Regions from separate parts of the Homo sapiens genome. Here region 1 is linked to region 2. The links come from fine-mapping of genetic effects on gene expression. Tissue or cell type: visceral fat. Region 2 holds a variant in brackets; the other region holds the start of a gene. All regions are shown on one strand. Distances are from middle to middle.

Region 1 (8,220 bases), 66 kb after region 2:
AAATGTTACCATAAGCTAAGGTTAATTTATTATTAAAAAAATATTTTTTTTTATAAATTTAGTGTAGCCTAAGTGTTCAAGCTACAGTAGTATACATAATATTCTAGGCCTTCACTTTCACTCACCACTCACTCACTGACTTACCCAAAGTAACTTCCAGTCCTGCAAGCTCCATTCATGGTAATTCCCCTATACAGGTATACCATTTTTTGTCTTTTATGTCATATTTTTACTGTAACTTCTCTATATTTAGATATGTTTGGATATACAAATACTATTATAATGATAATAAATGACTGTTATTGGTTTATGTACTTACTATACTTTTTAATCTTATTTTAGTATATTCCTTCAACTTAGAAAAAAAAATGTTAATCGTAAAATAGGCACAGAGCAGGTCTTTCAGGAGGTATTCCAGAAAAGGGCATTGTTATTCTAGGAGACAACAGCACCATGTTGTAGGCAGTTGTGTTGCAACTGCCTACAGTATTCAGTATTCACCACTGTAGGCAGTTGTGTTGCAACTGCTTATAGTATTCAGTACAGTAACATGGTATACAGGTTTGTGGTATAGGAGCAATAGGCTATACCATATAGCCTAAGTGTGTAGTAGGCTATACCATATAGCCTAAGTGTGTAGTAGGCTATACCATCTAAGTTCGTGCAAGTACACTCTATAATGTTCTCAGATAAAATCGCCTATTGAAGCATTTCTCAGAATATGTCCCCATCGTTAAGCCATGCATGACTGTACAGGTGATTCAAGAAGGTCATAAGACCTTAAGCAGGTTCTAAGAAACCTTTATAACTATGTTATCTAGTTTATGGTATGACAACCTAGTATAGTTGTCAAGGACTACAGAGTCAGGCCTCAGGGAGACACCTGCATAGCCTCTTGCATGATTTCTTCATAGTGGTATAATATATGGATTCTTTCCAAAAACTAGAAGTTATGACTTTTAATTACAAACATGATAGCTGTAGAACAGGAAACAAAATGAAGTACACCCCAAATTCTCAACCTAACATAATCCTTACATGAAATGTGGCTTTTAATTTAAAATGCTATGATGACTGTAGAGCCGGAAGCAAAATACATTGTTCTCCAAGTTCTCAACATGTTTATACCGTGAAATGTTTTGTGAAATGGGAAGAGTCTTACTCACTGTTACATGGATACTGCTGGGTCTGGTCCTGTGGTCCAGCTGTCTTGATTCTCACTCCAGCTGCTTGTCCAGCAGGGTCTTTACCTGGCTCAGCACTTCTGTGGTTGACCTGTCTTTCTGGGGCTCGGCTGGCAGGGAATCAAACCAATGAAATGGAAAAGGTGTAAATAAATTTCCCTACCTAAACTCTAACAGGCTGTCATTCCAAAACACAGGAATGAGGCAAAATCTCATCTGTGATGTAGATGCCATCTATTTTCCTTCATGTTATTATAATATGAAATGCTCTCTGGGTCAGTTATGTTATTTCGTTCATGCTAAAATCATATCCTTCAGGAAAATTATGAGGTGGAGAAAAGAGAGAAGGGAAAGAACAATTGACTTGTTTCTACTATGGGCCAGACTCTATGTAGCAGCATTTTTTATGATTTCTGTGTGAGTCTTCATGTCAGTTATTGGTGGGGATTTTTCTTCTAGATATTTATAATATTTTGAATGGAATTTCAATCACACTCTACATGCTGTCTCATAGTCGGCTAATACAAAACATATTTCATTGCTTTGTCCACTTCATAAAAATATTTGCCTGGACAAAGCTTAGTAAACCTGGCAAGCACCATCTTGTGACCAGAACCAGAACTGCAGACACTCAGGCTTCTAGAATTTTTCATTCTCAGTTTAAGAGTTCTGTGCATGTGTTATACAAAAATGGGATCATAATGTTCTCATTTTAATATTTTTCATCATAATATCTCTCATGCAAATTGTATATATCTTTCTACATCTTTTGGATTTCCAAAGAAGAAAGGAAATCTCCACAACAATGGTCAAAATGTAATGGTTTGCTCTGTATATTTCTAGATTTTTTTCTGTAGAGACTTACCAATGTGGAAGCTTTTTGAAACTAGACCCTTTATTCCTCCAGTAATATATTTGAACATCTTTCCATATCAATAATTATTTTCCATATCATCTTTTTGTGAATTGCTTTACAAAATTTTTTCCACATTTCTAAAATTTTATGTTTTTCTCATGATGAAAATTATTCAGGCTTGCTCTTTTCAAAATGAAATTTTTAAAATGGGGAAATGTAATACATAGAAGGTTAAAATATTCTGTCTATTAATTGGAGATATGTGTGGAGATATAAGAACACTTATATCTCCAATTAATAAAGTGGCATGTATTATTTCCAGATTTCTCCAATTAATAAAGTAGCATGTATATTTCCAGGTTTTTATTGCATACACTGTACGAATGCATGCACATTCTTTTTGGTAAACAAATAGGATTACATGATACAGGCCATTCTTCAATTTGCTTATTTTTAGAAACTACCTTGGACATTTACTCTAATCATTGCATTTAGAGTTAACTCATTCCTTTTACAGCTGCGTAGTATTCAACATTATAGATATACTATCCTATATGACTATGTCATAATATGTTTAAAACATTTTACGAATTATTCCTCAGGAGTATAAAGATAAATATGTTCTGCTTGAACCAGAGTCTGGACTATAGCCTCAATAGTTGAATTGCAAGAAAAGCACAAGCAATCAGGTAATGAGCCTTCTCAGACCCATAGAAAAATCCTACTGCAGCTAAAGACAATGGAATGTGTGTGTGGCTATTTGCTCAAGTGTCTGTAACAAAAGTGATTATTCCCTTTTCAGCTCCATTATCGTTTCCAAAAGAATCTAAAAGTACATAAAAATCTAAAGATGAAAATACACATCATCAGTACTCAAACCCTGAGTTGTTCACGGCATACATTTGATGTCTAATCCTTTTTATTTTTTTCCTCATCACATACATGTTTGAATATACTATTTAAAATTACATTTATTTAGCCACATATTTGAACACCTTTCCCTGTTTATATATGAGTTTACGCTATTTTGGGGAAAGTAGCTTTTCCCCATGATTTTAAGTTCTCATCTCAGTTTCTATGCCGACATAGAAACTACATGCTAAGTAAAATGTGGAAGAAAGAAGTGGAAAATTTCCTCCTTTTTCCCCTGACATCCTTTTTTATCAGGCATCCTTTATTACTAAGTATATTGTTTGTTGTGTTTTATTATACTAATGCACGTCTGTTATTGTTATGATCTTTTAGATTTTTTCCATTGCAGTACAAATAGGAATGTACAATTCTCTTGAGAGATAGGTAGAAGTACAGACAAAGATCATATTTTGCACATTATTTAAAAAGCTATTATATTAAGTCATTGTGTATCCCTTGACAAATAACCAAACTAATTCTCAGAGATACTCGAATTTGCACAGTTATGCATTACTTTAAATTACTAACATACTCCACCAAAACAGTAAGATTTGTTAGAAACACAACACATTCAAAGTAATATAAAAAACCAACATCCCCAACAACTTAATTTTTCATTTAAGACTATTACAACCTTTTTCAAAATAAGGAAGATTAAACTCCCAAGTTTTGTTTCATCATTTATCTCAGCCACCACTGCCTTTTGATGGAAACATAAAATGCTCTATTAAAAAGTTAGCTTTTGCTACCTCTTTAAGAATATTTTTCCACAGGTGTAATGTTGATTACCACCTCCCCGACTGTGGACTTTTAAAATAATCTGAAGGAACACAAAACACAGATATTAATTCCCTCACAGAAACAACGACCCTCACAGAACGACACTCCTTTCCCGTTATTCCTAAGCAGCACTCTCTTCTTTTCTCACCTTTATTCCAAATCTTCGAGAACTCTCTGAAAATAACTAGCATTTACGACAGCCATTACCTCCAAGCTTCTCCACGGAAGCCTCCGAAGCCTGTGTGTAATGCAGCTCCTCCCCGAAGACTGGCTGGGCGCAGCTTTCTTCCAAGCTCCTAGAGGATGCTCCGCCCCCTCTCCGTGATGGGGAAAGCACGAGGTTCTTCCTTCGCTTAGGAGAAAAATGACCAACTTAAACCGAAATACAGTTAAAGGGAAGAAATGTTCCTCTTAAAGTACTTTAAAGTGTAATGGTAACCTATGTCTGTTCAATTTCCATTCAACCCCCTAGGATAGGTGTTTTAATGGAAAAAGAGAAGCAACAGCAAATCTCTTTTTCATATAATAAAGATGTGGTTAAAACGTTCCTTACATATATTTTTTCTGATCCTCTTTTGTACTTTATTTCTGGTAAATTTAAGACCTACTGGCCAAACTTCACAAAAAAACATACGCTAAGTATTTTGATTTGGATTACAGTGAATTAATACTTTATTTTAGGTAGAATTAATTCTTTACAATTTTGAATCTGAACCTGGGACATAATATATCTCTCCTTTTATTCAAGTTTCTTATACTTCTTTCCTTAGGTCATTTCCAAAGAAAAATCCTCAGACAAAATCTGATTATACTGAAATTGAAAAAAAAAATGTATTAAGCGTAAAATCACCATAGGCCAAGTTAAAAAATCAGCCGCAAACTTAGGAGTGCTTTTCAAGTGCTTTTGTTTGTCCATATGATTAGATAAACAAAAATATACCCAAGCTAGTTCTTTCATTTCAATAAGAAAGAAATGAACAACAAAGTAGAGAAAGGGGCAAAGAACACAAGCAGAGAATTCCCAACGTCCTTCCCTATTCCTGATATTCACTTCACTGTGAAGAAATCTCAAAGCAGTGTAACTTGAAGGCTCTCTGCGTCTTCTAGACTAGAGAAATATGCTTCTAGGCTGATGGATAGGTTTCCTTAAGTCTGGAGTTCTGTTAGTCTCATTTCACTCTCACAAGCAAAGTCCTGCAATTTATCTTCCCCTCTTAATAAAGCTGACAATTTTGGTTTCATCTGCTATTCAACTTATTTTTACCACATTTTCTTCATTATTTTTAAGATATGACAATTGTAAACTTTTTGTACCCACGAGATTACCTCAAAATGTATAATAATGCAAAAATGGATAGAAATACATTATTGGGCAAGTAAGAAAAATTTGATTAGCTCTTATAGAAGTAAAAGGAACTGGTGGTCAGTGCCTCCTCCTGAGGCTCTTTTACCTACAAAGTACTTTGATCTCTCCCAGATTAATGTCTGTTTATTTTGGTCTTGGAATGTGATTTTTTTGTACAATTGACAAAAATTATATATATTCAAGATGGGTAATGTGATGATTTGATATATGTGTACACTGTGAAATGATTACCACAATCAAGCCAGGTAACATATCCATCACCTCACATAGTTACCATTTCGTGTGAGATGAGAACGCTTTAGATCTACCTTCTTAGCAAATTTCAAATATACATTACATATTATTAACTACAGTCACCTTTTCATGTACCTTTTGACCATTTGCACATTTTCATTGGAAAAAATAACTACCCAGTGTCTTTTACTCATTTTTAAAATCAGGTTACTTGCTAGTTTTTTCTTGACATTGAGTTTTATAAGTTTCTTATTGTGGGTATTAATTTTATAAGTTTCTAATTGTGGATATTGACTCCTTATTGGATGCATGGTTTGCAAATATTTTCTCCCATTCCATGGGTTACCTTTTCATTCTGTTGATTATTTTCTTTGTTGTGCAGAAACTTTAGTTTGATGTAGTCCCACTTGTTTATTCATGTGATTTCTAATAGCAAGTTATCTCAAAAGCTCTGATATAATTTCAAAGCTCAAAGCTTCTCAGTATTGCAGCTCTATAAAAACCGCTTCTGTTCATGAAACATTCTGCAAAATTGTGGGACAAATTCTGCTAATGTGTAACAAGGACATAATACTAAGAATAATAGTTTATTGAAATATAACAACATCAAGAACAGAGAACTGATAAACTGTGTTCTATAAAGTCACAAGACCTTGAGAAACATTGCTATCCAGAATGAAAAGACTCTACTCTAAAGTGTCGCTTTTTTATTATTGTTGACATCAGTTTTATTTTCTTTGGTATTAAAAAGTGCTCTAAAAAACCAGTGGTTGCACCACTTAGAATGGCAATCATTAAAAAGTCAGGAAACAACAGGTGCTGGAGAGGATGTGGAGAAATAGGAACACTTTTACACTGTTGGTGGGACTGTAAACTAGTTCAACCATTGTGGAAGTCAGTGTGGCGATTGCTCAGGGGTCTAGAACTAGAAATACCATTTGACCCAGCCATCCCATTACTGGATATATACCCAAAGAACTCTAAATCATGCTGCTATAAAGACACATGCACACGTATATTTATTGCGGCATTATTCACAATAGCAAAGACTTGGAACCAACCCAAATGTCCAACAATGATAGACTGGATTAAGAAAATGTGGCACATATACACCATGGAATACTATGCAGCCATAAAAAATGATGAGTTCATGTCCTTTGTAGGGACATGGATGAAATTGGAAAGCATCATTCTCAGTAAACTATCGCAAGAACAAAAAACCAAACACCGCATATTCTCACTCATAGGTGGGAATTGAACAATGAGATCACATGGATACAGGAAGGGGAATATCACACTCTGGGGCCTGTTGTGGGGTGGGGGGAGGGGGGAGGGATAGCATTGGGAGATATACCTAATGCTAGATGACGAGTTAGTGGGTGCAGCGCACCAGCATGGCACATGTATACATATGTAACTAACCTGCACAATGTGCACATGTACCCTAAAACTTAAAGTATAATAAAAAAAATAAAAATAATAAAAAATAAAAAATAAAAAAAACCAGTGGTTGTAGAACATAAACATACCAAAGTATAAAATGTTGAAAATACCAAATATTGGTAAGGATAAGGAGCAATTGGAAGGTTCATACACTTTTTACAGAAATGTAAATTGGAACTCACATTTTGGGAACTGTTTTGGCACTATTTGCCTAAAGCTGAGCATTATAGAGGTTAAGAGAGAACCATCTAGTGCGTTAAGTAGCAGAGTGGAATATCTAAATTGGTAATAGAGAAATGGTCTCCACAGAGACCTATGGGTACCCAGATGATCCAGTGGGACATAGAAAGTAAATGTTTAAAATTCAATTTCTTTCATTTTGATTTATTTTATAAGCTTCTACTTATAAATATGTTAAATGCACATAATAAATACTATAATGTATTACATACTTTATAAAAATATCGAACAATTGGGAGGTGTCAAATTTTTTTTACAATGGTGATAAAAATATATGTGGACATCCCTGCTTTATGGCACTCACACCCCACATAGCCTTCCCACTTGTCCTTTCCCAAACCATTTGCATGGTTTGGGATTATTTTCTCATAAAAGACTAATTAAGCTGAACTTGCTAAATTTCCTGTATACTGTTTTCACTGCTCAGGTAAGCTAACGTTACTCTCATTAAATGTTTAAGGTAATCATGAGAAACTGAATTACAGTAAGCCATGTCTTTGCAAAATGATTGGTTCTCTCAAACTTCAGGTAAAGCCACAAAATATGTGGGTATACAGTTATTCTATTTGGACTATGTAAGTGTTTTCACTGTAATATTATAAAGCCAAAATTCTTTGTTTTAAGTTCAAGGGTACAAGTGCAAGATGTGCAGGTTTGTTACATAGGTAAATGTGTGCCATGGTGGTTTGCTGCACCTGTCAAACTATCACCTAGGTTTTGAGCCCGGCTTGCATAAAACCAAAATTCTAATACCAACAGTGAGTGTATTTTTCTTTAACGTCAACCTAAATTTAATTTCTTAGTTCTGTAATTGACTTTGAGACCTTGAAAATAATGAGTAAATTTTTTTGGATATCTGGACAATTCCTAAGAAAATCAGAATTCATAAACACAAAGCATCAAACATACCAAATTCCAATTAACAATTTTTATTTAGATTCTTACTTACATATAAAAGTATTTTTATAAAGCTCAAAATAAAACAGTAAAATCAATATTGTATGTGTATCATCTACTAATATGTTGAGAGGTTAATTGTATTTTAAAGCTCATATTTACACCTTTCTATGATATGTGTTTATGTGTGTGTATTTGGGTCTGTGTTTAAATATACACATATAATGGTACATTAATTTAAATAAGAGTAGTTTAGGAACAATAGAGAGGATTAAATTAAAATGAATAATGATTTTAGAACATGTAAT
Region 2 (8,426 bases):
TCCCTTCTTTTCGTTCATGACTTCTCATGATTTAGCTCCCTCTTATAAGTGAGAACATGTGGTATGTGGTTTTCTCTTCCTGCATTAGTTTGCTAAGGATAATAGCCTCCAGCCCTATCCATGTTACTGCAAAAGACATGAACTCATTTTGTTTAATGGCTGCATAGTATTCCATAATGTATATGTATGACATTTTCTTTATCCAATCTGTCACTGATGGGCATTGAGGCTGATTCCATGTTTTTGCTATTGTGAATAGTGCTGCAGTGAACATTCACATGCATGTGTCTTTATGGTAGAATGATTTATATTCCTCTGGGTATATATCTGGTAATGGGATTTCTTGGTCAAATGGTAGTTCTATTTTTAGCTCTTTAAAGAATCACCATACTGCTTTGCATAATGGTTGAACAAATTTACACTCCCACCAACAATGTATATGTGTTCCCTTTCCTCCACAACCTCACCAGCATCCGTTAGTTTTTGGCTTTTTTATTTTTTACTTCTCCACAGGTTATTGGGTTATAGGTTGTTGGTTATTTTATTTTTCCATAGGTTTGGTTACATGAATAAGTTCTTTGCTGGTTATTTGTGAGATTTGGTGCACCCATCACATGAGCAGTATACACTGCACCCTATTTGTAGTCTTTTATCCCTCACCCCCCTCCCACCCTTCTCCCCAAGTCCCCAAAGTCTGCTGTATCATTCTTATGCCTTTGCAATCTCATAGCTTACCTCCCACATATCAGGGAGAGCATACAATGTTTGGTTTTCCATTCCCGAGTTGCTTCACTTAGCATAGTAGTCTCCAACCTCATCCAGGTCACCACAAATGCCGTTAATTCATTCTTTTTCATGGCTGAGTAGTATTCCATTGTATATATACACCACGGTTTCTTTATCCACTCGTTGATCAATAGGCATTTGGGTTGGTTCCACAATTTTGCAATTGTGAATTTTGCTGCTATAAACATGTGTGTGCAAGTATCTTTCTGTACAATGACTTCTTTTCCTTTGAGTAGATACTCAGTAGTGGGATTGCTGGATCAAGCGGTAGTTCAACTTTTAGTTATTTAAGGAATCTCCACATTGCTTTCTATAGTAGCTGTACTAGTTTACATTCCCACCAGCAGTGTAGAAGTGTTCCCTGATCACTGCATCCATGCCAACATCTACCATTTTTTGATTTTTTGGTTATGGTCATTCTTGCAGAAGTAAGGTGGTATCACATTGTGGTTTTGATTTGCATTTACCTGACCATTAGTGATGTTGAGCATTTTTTCCTATATTTGTTGGCCACTTGTATATCTTCTTTACAGGATTGTCTATTGTGTCCTTAGTCCACTTTTTGATAAGATTTTTTTTTGCTGATTTGTTTGAGTTCATTGTAGATTCAGAATATTATTCCTTTGTCATATATATAGATTATGAAAATTCTGTCCCACTCTGTGGGTTGTCTGTTTATTCTGCTGCCTGTTCCTTTTGCCATGCAAAAGCTCTTTAGCTTAATTAAGTCTCAGCTATTTATCTTTGCTTCTATTGCATTTGCTTTTGAGTTATTGGTCATGAAATCCTTGCCTAAGCCAATGTCTAGAAGGGTTTTTCCAATGTTATCTTCTATAATTTTTATAGTTTCAGGTCTTAGATTTAAGTCCTCAATCCATCTTGAGTTGATTTTTGTATAAGGTGAAAGATGAGGATCCAGTTTCATTCTCCTACATGTGGCTAGCCAATTATCCCAGCACCATTTGTTGAAAAGGGTGTCCTTTCCCTTTTTTATGTTTTTGATTGCTTTGTCAAAGATCAGTTGGCTGTAAGTATTTGGGCTTATTTCTGGGTCCTCTATTCTGTTCCATTGGTCTCTCTGCCTGTTTTTATACCAGTACCAGGCTGTTTTGGTGACTATGGGCTTATAGTATAGTTTTAAATCAGGTAGTGTGATGCCTCTAGATTTGTTCTTTTTGCTTAGTTTTGCTTTAGCTATGTGGGCTTTTTTTGGTTCCATATGAACTTAAAAATTTTTTTTCTAATTCTGTGAAGAATGATGATGGTATTTTAATGGGGATTGCATTGAATTTGTAGATAGTTTTTGGCTTATGGTCATTTTCACAATATTGATTCCACCCATTCATGAGCATAGGATGTGTTTCCATTTGTTTGTGTCATCTATGATTTCTTTCAGCAGTGTTTTGTAGTTTTCCTTGTAGAGGTCTTTCACCTCCTTGGTTAAGTATATTCTTAAGTATTTTAATCTTTTTTGAAGTTATTGTAAAAGGGGTTGAGTTCTTGATTTGATTCTCTGCTTGGTCCCTGTTAGTGCATAGAAGAGCTACTGATTTGTGTACATTATTCTTGTATCCAGAAACTTTGCTCAATTGTTTTATCAGTTCTAGGAGCTTTCTGGAGGAGTCTTAGGGTTTTTGAGGTAACCTATCATATCGTCAGCAAACAGTGACAGTTTGACTTCCTCTTTACTGATTTGGATGCCTTTTATTTCTTTCTCTTCTTTGATTGCTCTGGCTAGGACTTCCAGTACTATGTTGAAGAGGAGTGGTGAGAGTGGGCGTCCTTGTCTTGTTCGAGTTCTCAGAGGGAATGCTTTTAATTTTTCCCCATTCAGCGTTATGTTGGCTGTGGGTTTGTCATAGATAGCTTTTATTACATTGAAGTGTATCGGGGGAACCTGCCCCCAATATTTCAACATAGGTCCTTTCTATTTTCCCTAAGTGTGAGCCAGTATGAGAAATAAAGAGAAAGAGCACAAAGAGAGGAATTTTACAGCGGGGCTGCCGGGGGTGACATCACATATCGGTAGGTCCATGATGTCCACCTGAGCTGCAAAACCAGCAAGTTTTTATTAGGAATTTCAAAAGGGGAGGGGGTGTACGAACAGGGAGTAGGTCACATGCTTCAAGGGGCAAAAGGCAGAGCAAAGATCACATACTTCTGAGGAAACAGGACCAGGGCGAAATCAGAAACTCTTGATAAGGGTCTATGTTCAGTGGTGCACGTATTATCTTGATAAACATCTTAACAGAAAACAGGGTTCGAGAGCAGAGAACCGGTCTGACCTCAAATTTACCAGGGCTGGGGTTTCCCAATCCTAGTAAGCCTGAGGGTACTGCAGGAGACCAGGGCATATCTCAGTCCTTATCGCAACCGCATAGGACAGACACTCCCAGAGCGGCCATTTATAGACCTCCCCCCAGGAATGCAATTCTTTTCCTAGGGTCTTAATATTATATTCCTTGCTAAGAAAAGAATTTAGCAGTATCTCTCCTACTTGCACATATGTTTATAGGCTCTCTGCAAGAAGAAAAATGTGACTCTTTTTGCCTGACCCCTCAGGCAGTCAGACCTTATGGTTGTCTTCCCTTGTTCCCTAAAATCGCTGTTATTCTATTCATTTTCAAGGTACACTGATTTCATATTGTTCAAACACACATGTTTTATGATCAATTTGTACAGTTAACACAATTATCGCAGGGTCCTGAAGTGACGTACATCCTCAGCTTACAAAGATAACAGGATTAAGAATTTAAAGTAAGACAGGAATAAGAAATTATAAGAATATTATTAGGGAAGTGATAAACATCCATGAAATCTTCACAACTTATGTTCTTCTACTGTGGCTTCAGCCAATCCCTCCATTTGGGGTCCCTGACTTCCCGCAACAGAAGCATGTCCTTTGTATGCCGATTTTGCTGAGAGTTTTAATCATAAAGGGATGCTGGATTTTGTCGAATGCTTTTTCTGCATCTATTAAGATGATCACGTGATTTTTGTTTTTAATTCTGTTTGTGTGGTGTATCACATTTATTGACTTACATGTGTTAAACCATCCCTGCATCCCTGGTATGAAACCCACTTGATCATGGTGGATTACCTTTTTCATATGTTGTTGAATTTGGTTAGCTAGTATTTTGTTAAGGATTTTAGCATTTATGTTCATCAGGGATATGGGTCTGTAGTTTTCTTTTTTGGTTATGTCCCTTTCTAGTTTTGGTATTAGGGTGATGCTGGCTTCATGGAATGAATTAGGGAGTGTTCCCTATTTCTCTATCTTGTGGAATAGTGTCAGTAGGATTGGTACCAATTATTGTTTGAATGTCTGGTAGAATTGTGCTGTGAATCTGTCTGGTCCTGGACTTTTTTTTGTTCTTGTTGGTCATTTTTAAATTACCATTTCAGTCTGGCTGCTTGTTATTGGTCTGTTCAGGGTATCTAATTCTTCCTGAGTTAAGGTAGGAGGGTTGTATTTTTCCAGAAATTTATCCATTTCTTCTAGGTTTTTTAGTTTATGTGCATAAAGGTGTTGACAGTGGCCCTGAATGATCTTTTGTATTTCTGTGGTGTCAGTTGTAATATCTCCCGCTTTGTTTCTTACTGAGGTTATTTGGATTTTCTCTCTTCTTTTCTTGGTTAATCTTGCTAATGATCTATCAATTTTCTTTATCTTTTCAAACAACTAGCTTTTTGCTTCATTTATCTTTTGTATTTGTTTGTTTGTTTCAATTGTATTTAGTTCTGCTCTGCTCTTGGTTATTTCTTTTCTTCTGATGGGTTTGGGTTTGGTTTGTTCTTGATTCTCTAGTTCCTTGAGGTGTGACCTTAGAATGTCAGTTTGTACTCTTTCAGTCTTTCTTTCTGACGTAGGCATTTAGGACTATGAACTTTCCTCTTAGCACCGTGTTTGCTATATCCCAGTGGTGTTGATAGGTTATGTCATTTTCCAACTCCTATTTCCTTACATTCAGGGAAAATCTCCCCCAAAATTTTTATTAATTTAAGAGTTCTGTTCAGCATTAAAAGGACAAGGGTGGCAGAGCCTCCAAAACGTAAATTTAAAGAAGATAATCTTAAATATTTTGATGGTTAAATTTATTTGTCAACTTGAATGGGCCATGAGGTGCCATATATTTGGTTAAACGTTATTTATAGGTGTGTTTGTGGATAAAATCAACATTTGAATTGATAGACTGAATAAAGCAGATTGCCCTCCCTGATGTGGGTGGGCTTCCTCTTATCAA[C/T]TGAAGAACTAAATGGAATAATAGTCTGTGTATGAAAGAATTATCTCTCTTTCTGCCTTACTACCTCAGGCTGGGACACCAGTCTCCTTCTCTGGACTTGAAATAGAACTTACAATATCAGGTCTTCTGATTCTCATGCCTTGGGATTAGAACTAGCACTATATAGTTGGCTTTCCTAGGTCTCTAGCTTGCATGCTGCAGATAAGCCTATTCCTTATAGTCAGCTTATATATATGTAATATTTTATATGTTACAATATATACTACAATGCATTATATGTACTATTTAACATAATACATATTATTAATATATTAATAATACATATTATATTAAATAGTATATATAATCTAATAAACTGTATATTATATATAAATTAAATTATATATTATATTACATATTATACATAATTATAATATGTAACATATCATATACCATTTATATTATATTACAATATATAATCTATATTATATATTATATAAAATATATATATCATTTATATTATAATATATAGTATATAATATATATTATACTTTATATATATTATATATTATACTATAATATATAATATATATAGTATATATTATATATTTTATATAATATATAGTATATTTATATGTAATATAGACTATATATTACATATAAATTTAATACCTAACATATACTATATATTACATATAAATATAATATCTAACATGTACTATATATTAGATACAAAATATAATATCTAACATATACTATATGTTAGAGACAAATATATCTAACATATACTATATGTTAGAGACAAATATATCTAACATATACTATATGTTAGAGACAAATATATCTAACATATACTATATGTTAGAGACAAATATATCTAACATATACTATATGTTAGAGACAAATATATCTAACATATACTATATGTTAGAGACAAATATATCTAACATATACTATATGTTATATATAAATATAATATCTAATATATACTATATGTTATATATAAATATAATATCTAATATATACTATATGTTATATATAAATATAATATCTAATATATACTATATATTATATATAAATATTTCTAATATATACTATATATTATATATAAATATATCTAATATATTATATTTATATTTATATTATATTTCTATAATATATAAATGTAATATATAATTATATAATATATAATATAAATATAATTATATAATATATAATATGTAAATATTATATATTATATAATTATATATTATATATATTATATTATAGTATATTATATATTATATAATTATACATTATATATATTATACTATAGTATATTATATATTATATATATTATATAATATTATATACTATATAATTATATATTATATATATTATATTATATTATATATTATATAATTATATATGATATAATTATATATTATATAATATAATATATTATATTATAATTATATTGTAAAAATATTATATTATAATTATATTGTTATATATAATATATAGCATATATTACATATATTATATTTATAAAGTATAACATAAATATAAAGTAAGGTGGTATTGCATTGTGCTTTTGATTTGCATTTCCCTGATAATTAGTGATGTTGCACATTTTTTCCGTATGCTTTTGGCCATTTGTATATCTTCTTTTGGGAATTGTCTATTCACGTCCTTAGCCCACATTTTGAGGGGGTTGTTTGCTTTTTTCTTGCTGATTTGAGTTATTTGTAGATTCAGAATATTAGTTCTTTTTCGGATATATAGATTGTGAAGATTTTCTCCCCCTTGATGGGTTGTTTGTTAACTCTGCTGATTATTGCTTTTGCTGTTCAGAAGCGTCTTAGTTTAATTAAGTCCTATCTATTTACCTTTTTTTTTTTGCATTTGCGTTTGAGTTCTTGGTCATGAAGTCTTTGCCTAAGTCAATGTCTGGAAATATTTTCCTGATGCTGTCTTCTGTACTAGAATCTAGATGGTTTTAGGTCTTAGATTTATGTCTTTGATCCATCTTGAGTTGATGTTTTGCATAAGGTGAGAGATGAGGACCCAGTTTCGTTCTTTTACAGGTGGCTTGCCAATTATCCCAGCACTATTTGTTGAATAGGGTGTCCTTTCCCCCATTTTAAGTTTTTGTTTGCTTCTTCAGAGATCATTTGGCTGTTAAGTATTTGGCTTTATTTCTGCGTTCTCTATTCTGTTCCATTGGTCTATGTGCCTATTTTTTTTATACCTGTAGCATTCTGTTTTGGTGACTATAGCCTTATAGTATAGTCTGAAGTTGGGTAACGCAATGCCTCCATATTTGTTCTTTTTGCTTAGTCTTGCTTTGGCTATGTGGGCTCTTTTTTGGTTCCATATGAATTTTAGAACTGTTTTTCTAGTTCTGTGAAGAATAACAGTGGCATTTTGATGAGAATTGCCTTGAATTTGTAGATTGCTTTTGGCAGTGTGGTCATTTTCACAATATTGATTCTACCCATCCATGAACACGGGATATGTTTTCATTTGCTTGTGTTATCTATGATTCCTTTCAGCAGTTTTTTGTAGTTTTCTTGTAGAGGTCTTTCACCTCCTTGATTAGGTATATTCCTAAGTATTTTAACTTCAATTTTTTTTTACAGCTACGTGAAAGGGGTTGAGTTCTTGATTTGATTCTCAGCTTAGTCGCTGTTGGTATGTAGCGGAGCTACCGATTTGTGTACATTAATTTTGTATTCTGAAACTTTGCTGAATTCATTTTCCAGTTCTAGGAGCTTTTTGGATGAGTCTTTAAGGTTTTCTAGATATACAATCATGTCATTGACAAACAGCAATAGTTTGATGTTCTCTTTACTGATTTAGATGCTTTTTATTTCTTTCTCTTGTCTGATTGATCTGATGAGTACTTCCAGTACTATGCAGAATAGAAGTGGTGAAAGTGGGCATCCTTGTCGTGTTCTAGTTCTCAGGGGGAATCTTCTCAACTTTCCCCATTCAGTATAATGTTGGCTGTGGGTTTGTCATAGATGGCTTTTATCACCTTAAGGTATGTCCCTTCTATGCCAGTCTTGCTGAAGGATTTATTCATAAAGAGATGCTGGATTTTGTCAAATGCATTTTCTGAGCCTATTGAGATGATCATGGGATAGTTGTTTTTAATGCATGACTTTCAGCAATGAACAGATTATCCAGACGGAAAAACAATAAGGAAACATTGGACTTAAACCACACTTTAGAACAAATAGACCTAACACAGAGATATACAGAATATCCCATCCAACTGCGGCAGAATACACATTCTTCTCAAGTGCACATGCAACATTCTCCAGGATAGATCATATGTTAGCAACAAAACATGTCTTAACAAATGTAAGAAAAATGAAATCATATCAAGCATCTTTTTTGAGCACAATAGTATGAAACTACAAATCAGTAACA

Direction of the effects. Positions count from the first base shown, and alleles are read on the strand shown. Sizes are in standard deviations (SD) of each study's normalised expression.
With allele T in place of C in region 2, the expression in visceral fat of the gene that starts at base 4,001 in region 1 is higher (small effect, 0.30 SD a copy in GTEx).

Evidence for each region. PIP is the estimated chance that this variant, and not a neighbour inherited with it, causes the effect.
Region 1: it holds the start of PWWP3B, and the variant in region 2 is fine-mapped to the expression of PWWP3B in visceral fat (GTEx, PIP above 0.99).

What each region holds. Positions count from the first base shown.
Region 1 is chrX:106,164,086-106,172,305 of GRCh38, reverse strand. PWWP3B (PWWP domain containing 3B) reads right to left here and starts at 4,001. Exons shown (of 4, transcript NM_001171020.2): 1 at 3,881-4,001; 2 at 1,167-1,294.
Region 2 is chrX:106,230,335-106,238,760 of GRCh38, reverse strand. No RefSeq gene overlaps it. Among named protein-coding and RNA genes, the nearest start is that of PWWP3B, 66 kb to the right of the region's middle. The variant C/T (reference allele first, on the strand shown) is at 5,031.